2 linked regions of the Homo sapiens genome follow. The protein of the gene in region 2 purifies or fractionates together with the protein of the main gene of each other region. This does not show direct contact. Each region holds a gene or a part of one and is shown on either strand. Other genes may lie near its edges.

The links. The genes of interacting proteins can lie anywhere in the genome.
Region 1: the proteins of KCNG4 (region 2) and CA1 purify together in Homo sapiens (affinity purification with mass spectrometry; one large-scale study listed by BioGRID and IntAct). This does not show direct contact.

Annotation. Positions count from the first base shown.
Region 1 is NC_000008.11:85,371,614-85,375,113, forward strand, and holds part of CA1 (carbonic anhydrase 1), read right to left. Parts: intron 1,126-3,500; exon of another isoform or gene 528-1,125; intron 1-527. UniProt on the Homo sapiens protein: Catalyzes the reversible hydration of carbon dioxide. Can hydrate cyanamide to urea.
Region 2 is NC_000016.10:84,226,513-84,230,012, forward strand, and holds part of KCNG4 (voltage-gated potassium channel regulatory subunit KCNG4), read right to left. Parts: intron 1-3,500. UniProt on the Homo sapiens protein: Regulatory subunit of the voltage-gated potassium (Kv) channel which, when coassembled with KCNB1, modulates the kinetics parameters of the heterotetrameric channel namely the time course of activation, deactivation and inactivation and on the voltage-dependence of activation.

The DNA of each region.
Region 1 (3,500 bases), on a different chromosome or scaffold from region 2:
CCACCCAATACAAATATTTGTCTAAAGCAATACCTGGAGAGGTAATATGATTTACAACTTAATGAGAAAAATAAAATAATTTGCTGAGCGTGAGTGAAGCTACTTTAGAGAATGAGAACAGTAAAGATTTTACTGTGTTGATAAAGACTGGATTGCACTCAGTGAATTACAGAGCAGCAAGGTTCTGATATTTACTTTCAGTTCCTCTTCACTGAGGAACTTTTGAACTTCTACATGCATTGTGGCTAAAAGAATTGTGGCCTGTCTTCTATGGATGATTTTAAGCTCAACCATCAAACATCCATTAAACACCAAGTATATGTCAGGTCCTATGCTGGGTGTTGAGGACAGAAGATGAGTGAGGAGCTCATAATGTTGTACAGGAGAAAGACATATAAGTAAATAATAATGAAAGGGATTGCCACTTTTTAAGTGCAGACTACGTGCTAATGGTTTCACATATATTATTTCACCAAATCTTTAAAACAATCCTAGAGTCATGTTTATTTTTATCCTCATTTTACAAGCGAGGAAACAAAATCATGGACGATGGACCATATGCCATGGTAGAACTAAAGTTCAGACGCGAGCACAGAGAAGACCCAGGTTTTTGGGAGGCCCTCTTTAAAAAAGAATGCACTTTGTACTCATCAGACGGCTACTATGAAACAAAAAGAAAACCAACCAGACAAAAATACAGCAGAAAACAAGTGTTGGCGATGATGTGGAGAAATGAGAACCCTTGTGCATTTCTGGTGGGAATGTAAAGAGCTGTCACCATTGTGGAAAGCAGTATGGTGATTCCTCAAAGAATTAAACACAGAACTACCTTATGGTCCAGCATTCCACTTCTGAGTATATATCTGAAAGAAGTGAGAACAGGGGATTCTACAGATATTTGTACACCTGTATTCATAGCAGTGTTATTCACAATATTCCAAAGGTGGAAACAAACCCAGTGTTTATTGTCAGATGAATGAATAAACAAAATGTGGTACTATATATACAGTAGTTTCCCCCTTAACCAAAGCTTTGCTTTCCTCTGTTTCAGTTATGTATGATCCACCACAGTCCAAAATTATTAAATGGAAACTTCTAGAAATAAACAATACGTTTTCAATTGCATGCCATTCTGAGTAGTGTGATGACATCTCACAGCATCCCACTCCATCCTGATGGGGCCGTGAATCTTCCCTTTGTCCATCATATCGCCTCTGTACATGCTGCCCTCCCCTTAGTCACTTAGTAGTCTTCTCAGTTATCAGATTTTCTGTTGCCATGTTGCAGTGCTTGTGTTCAAGTAACCCTTATTTTACTTCATAATGGCCCCAAAGCCCAAGACTTGTGATGCTGGTAATTTGGATATGCCAAAGAGAAGCCATCAGTCCTTCCTTTAAGTGAAAATTTGAAAGCTCTTGGCTTAATAAGGAGAGGAAAAAAGTCATATACTGAGGTTGCTAAGATCTACGGTAAGAACAAATCTTCTATCCAGGTAATTGTGAAGGAGGAAAAAGAAATTCGTGCTAGTGTTGGTGTTGCAACTCAAACTGTAAAAGTTACAGCTACAGTGCAAGATGGGTGTTTCGTTAAGACGGAAAAGACATTAAATGGGTGGGTGGAAGACATGAATAGAAAACATGTTTTGATAACCACCAGTTGCACCAGAAAGCACTGAGCATCTGCGAAGACTTCAGCAAGCAAGAAATGAGTTGACACCACGCCGCAAAGGGCTGGTTACACTGATTCAGAAATACAGAAGGTCAGTAGCAGCCTATGGCTACATCACAATGCTTACATCATTCACCTCTTGTCATCTCATCACAGAGGCATCACAGCATCTCCCATGACAAGAAAGGTGAGTACAGTACAATGCAATATTTTGAGAGAGAGAGAGAGACTACATTCACATAACTTTTATTATGATATATTGTTATAGTTGTTCTATTTTATTATTAGTTATTGTTGTTAATCTCTTCCTATTCCTAATTTATAATTTAAACTTTATCATAGATGTGTTTGTATAAGGAAAAAAACATAGTGTTTATAGGGTTCGGTACTAGCCATGGTTTCAGGTATTGTCTTGTAACGTATCCTCACAGATAAGGGGGACTACTGTATATACAAGGGAATATTATTCAGCCTTAAAAAGAAATGATACATGCTACAATATGGAGGAAGATTGAAGACACTATGCTAAGTGAAATAAGCCATATACAAAGGGACAAATACTGTGTGATTCCACTTATATGGGATAACTAGAATAGTCAAATTTATAGAGCTAGAAAATAGAGTAATTGCTGCCAGAGCTCGGGGGAGGAAGGAGTGGGGAGTTATTGTTTAATGAATATGGAGTTTCAGTTTGGAAAGATGAAAAAGTTCTGGAGATGATGCGCGATGGGGGTTGCACAGCAACGTCAATGTACTTAATGCCACAGACCTGTATACCTTAAAATGTTTAAAGTAGTAAATTTAATTTTACCACAAAAAGAATACAAAATTAATAATAAAATTAGTGACAAAAGTGAATATCTATTTAGAACAAGAAAATGATTTATAATAAATCAAATATTTTACAAAGTTAAATATCAAAAATATCACAAAATCTAAAAAACAATATTTCATATTCAGCCACTGCCAGACACAATCCTCTAAGAGCTTTTATCTATATTTTAATTTCATAATTCTGGATTATCTCTTCATATAGCAAAAATTTTATATTATTTTCTGTAGAGAGAATAGAAAGATATTTCAGTCTTATTTCAAGCATGGTTGATTAAAATTTTTGTTTGTTCTTATTAATACTGGGATTCATAAAACTTCACACACATTTGAAGTACTGCTATAGGTTTGTGTCTTAATACACAGGATTCTTTAATTTTGTACTATTTTCATCAAAAAAATTTTGTAACATATGATGTGGTTTTAATCGTACGTAAGACATTATCAGATACATTCCTGAGAGAACCTGTCTTAACTAGGTTTTCTGGTCAAATTCTAAAACCAAATTCTCTGCCTGCAGCTTTACACACTGGATGATTGAAATTATTTTCCCTCGATTAGCTCTGTCTCTGTGCATTTCACCATCTGTTTCTCTTCAATAACCTACAAATTTCTGAACCTGGGAGCCATTAGGAAGCACACTTTCACTTTTCAATATGACTTCTGGCCCTGCATATTTGTTTTGGCATAGTGGATGCTACCCTGAATGGCTAGCAATAAATTATCAATATACAGAAATGACTGATACCCACATAAATATGACCCACTAAAGCCAAACTAAAATTATTCTCAACTCAACTTTCCCCATTTGGGTCTCAAAAATGCCCACAGCCCCTCCAATACCACCTGATACAGGAAATATGATGCCGTACAGTCAGAGTAAAATGATAATGGGGTTGACTGATTGTGGTTAAATATCTTTTGCAAATTTTATATAAAACATATGATTGTGTGAACACATTTCTTGTGCCCTTCTGGGATCTTGGAAGTAAATCAAGCAA
Region 2 (3,500 bases):
AGAAGAAAAATAGTAACAAATGATTATAAGTGATCTGAGGTGGAGAGGGGATGGAAAGAGAGGAAACAAGAATGGCAGAATATTGGCTGGGCACAATGGCTCACGCCTGTAATCCCAGCACTTTGGGAGGGCAAGGTGGGTGGATCACCTGAGGTCAGGAGTTCGAGACCAGCCTGACCAATATGGTGAAACCTTGTCGCTACTAAAAATACAAAAATTAGCCAGGCATGGTGACACATGCCTGTAATCCCAGCTACTTGGCGGGCTGAGGCAGGAGAATGGCTTGGACCTGGTAGGCGGAGGTTGCAGTGAGCCGAGATTGCACCACTGCACTGCAGCCTGGGCGATAGAGCGAGACTCCGTCTCAAAGACAAACATACACAAAAGCGGCAGAATATTGACCATTGTGTGTAGCTAAGTCATGGAGTCATGGTTTCCCAGAAGTTCCTTATATTATTCTATTTACCTTGTAAATGTCTGAAGTTCTCCATGATGAAAAGTTAAAAAAAAAAAGGATAATCAAAAGCACAATAAGACACAAATTGACATCCACTAGGATGGCTAAAATCATAAAGACAGACAATAGCCAAGTGTCGGTGAGATTGTGGAGAAACTGGAACCCATCACTACTGGTGGGGATGTAAAATGGGGCAGCGGCAGTGGAAACAGTTTGGCAGGTCCTCAAAAGGTTAAACAGAATTACCATGCAACCCAGCTGTTCCACTCCTAGGTGTATAGCTCAGACAAATGAAAACACATGTCCACACAAAAACTTGTACACAGGCCGGGTGTGGTGGCTCACGCCTGTAATCCTGGCACTTTGGGAAGCCGAGGCGGGTGGATCACCTGGGGTCAGGAGTTTAAAACCAGCCTGGCCAACATGGTAAAACCCCATCTCTACTAAAAATACAAAAATTAGCCAGGCATGGTGGCAGGTGCCTGTGATCCTAGCTACTCGGGAGGCTGAGGCAGGAGAATCACTTGAACTCAGGAGGTGGAGGTTGCAGGGAGCCAAGCTTGTGCCACTGCACTGCAGCCTGGGCGACAGAGCTAGAATCTGTCTCAGAAAAAAACAAAACAAAACAAAACCCAAAAAAACTTGTACACAAAAGTCCATGGTAGTATTATTCATAATAGCCCCAAAGTAGAGACAACTTAAACATCCATAAACTGATGAGTGAATACATAAAATGCGGCCTATTCATACAATGGAATAGTAGTCAGCCATGAAAAGGAATGAAGGGCTAAATCGTGCTACAACATGGATGCACCCTGAAAACACGATGCTGAGTGAAAAGAAGCCAGACACAGACACGACATGTTGGATGATTCCACTTATGTGAGATGTCCAGAGCAGGCAAATCCACAGAGACAGAAAGCAGAGGGGTGGGTGTCCGGGGCTGGATGGAGGAGGAGGGTAGCAGTGATGGCTGCACAGCTCCACGATGATACTAAAGACCACCGAATTGTGCACTTTAAAAGGGCCAATATTGTGGTATGGGAGTTATCGTCGGAGTCTGAGCTGGCTGAACACTCCTGGGGGAGGCAGGAAGTGGAAGTAGTGGGGGTCCCACAGCCTGGCCCTCACCTGTTTCACGCAGCAGCAGAGCGGGGCTTCCTGAGGGCAAAGCTGCTGCCCTGGGGGCCCTGCAGATGCAATGCAGGCCAGTTCTGGAAGCTCCATCTGGGAGGGGCTCAGGGCCCACAGTCTTGACCTTGGAGACTTCCTCGCCCCCTCTGTCCCTCCCAGCAAAATGCTGCCAGCCCCACTTCAGAACGTGGCCACCTCTCACTTCTGCAGCTCCTTAGTCAGGGCTGGTCCATTCTGCAGCTCGGCATCCCTCCCTCCCCTCCCTCCTGCTGTGAGTTCACCATTTGTGCCTTTGGCCCTGGCCCGAGGCCCTGAGCTGTTTCCTCTGAGGCTCTCCTGGGGCCTGGATGTGCTGACTCACTCCTCTGCCCACTCCTTTAGCCACTTTTCTCTCGGCCAGCCGTGCCCTCCGCTACCCTCCCCTCCTTTACTCCGCTCCCATGGGCCTCCCCCCAGGCACTACTCACCCCGAGCCGCAATCCCTCCTCCCCAGGTCTCCCCGCCACCCCCCCGCCCACTCCTTCTAGCAGCTGTCCCCACTTCCCAACCCTGGGACACAAGGGCTCTGAGAGTGCTGGAACCAACCGGACGGGGTCAGCCCCACCATGGGACCTGGCCGATGAGTCATCTCTCTGAAGGCGTCTTCCCTTCTGTGAAGTGGGGAAGGTAACTGTCATCCCACAGGGCGATTGTGGGCACCCGGGAGACCCGCTGAGGGATGCTGCAGTGTAGAAGCTTCCCAAATCTACGCTGCTTCTCTTCCTCCTCAGTCCTCTCCCGCTGCTGCCCTCCGGTTCATGCCCTGTGGCTGATCCATCACCGGCTCTCCACGGCCTTCACCTTGGGCGGGTTGGATGGCTGACTTCTCTTCTAGAGGTTCCAGCAAATTCTTACTAGAAAGCAGCTGCCACTGGGCTGGGCATGGTGGCTCACGCCTGTAATCCCAGCACTTCGGGAGGCTGAAGTGGGCAGATCACTTGAGGCAAGGGAGTTTGAGACCAGCCTGGCCAGTGTGTGGAAACCCTGTCTCTACTAAAAACACAAAAATTAGCCTGGCGTGGTGGTGCACACCTGTAATCCGTTACTCGGGAGGCTGAGGCATGAGAATCACTTGAACCCAGGAGGTTGGAGGAGAGCCGAGATTGTACCATTGCACTCCAGCCTGGGCAACAGAGCAAGACCCTGTCTCAAAAAAAAAAGAAAAAAAAAAAGCAGCTGCCACTGAGGGAGCATTACTAGCTTAGCTGCTGTCAGGCAAGTTGCATAACTTCTTGAGACCCAGTTTTCTGATCTGTAGAATGGGATTGTGGTGAGGATTAAATTAGGAAACAGGGAAATGACTAGCACAGGGCCAGGAGCCCAGCAGGGGTCTAAGAAGTATCCACTGACTCTGAATCTCACAGCGGTTCTCCCCGTGTGGGGAAGGCGGGCCGCCATCCCATCGCCTCTGTGCTGGTGTCCCGTCAGCAGTCACCGAAGGAGAGACCTAGGGACTCTCCCAGTGTCCAGCACAGGCCCGGCCTGCAGGGGCCCTTCCTGAACGACTCATGAATGAGTGTGGGTGGTGGCGTCTGCATGGGGCATTTGCGGGGGGCTGGAGTTGGACCTGCAGAGGTGGGGGGACTGTGAGGAGGCAGAGGAAACAGTGTCACCTGCAGAGCATCAAGGAGGCCCCAGGCCAGGAAACAGGGAATATTGCTTCTTGGCTGGGACATAGGGAGAGACACAGCTGCAGGAAAAAAACAAAAGCAACAAAACTAGGATAAGAAGCATTCGCTAGAGCAATTACCAAATGCCACCAAGCACAGAGAAGCTCCAGAGAGCAGGCCAGTTTTTTAGGAAGCTGATTCATGGTCCGAGAAAGGGACAGATGAGGAGGCAGGAGCTGGCTCTTGTACAGGGCCTCTTA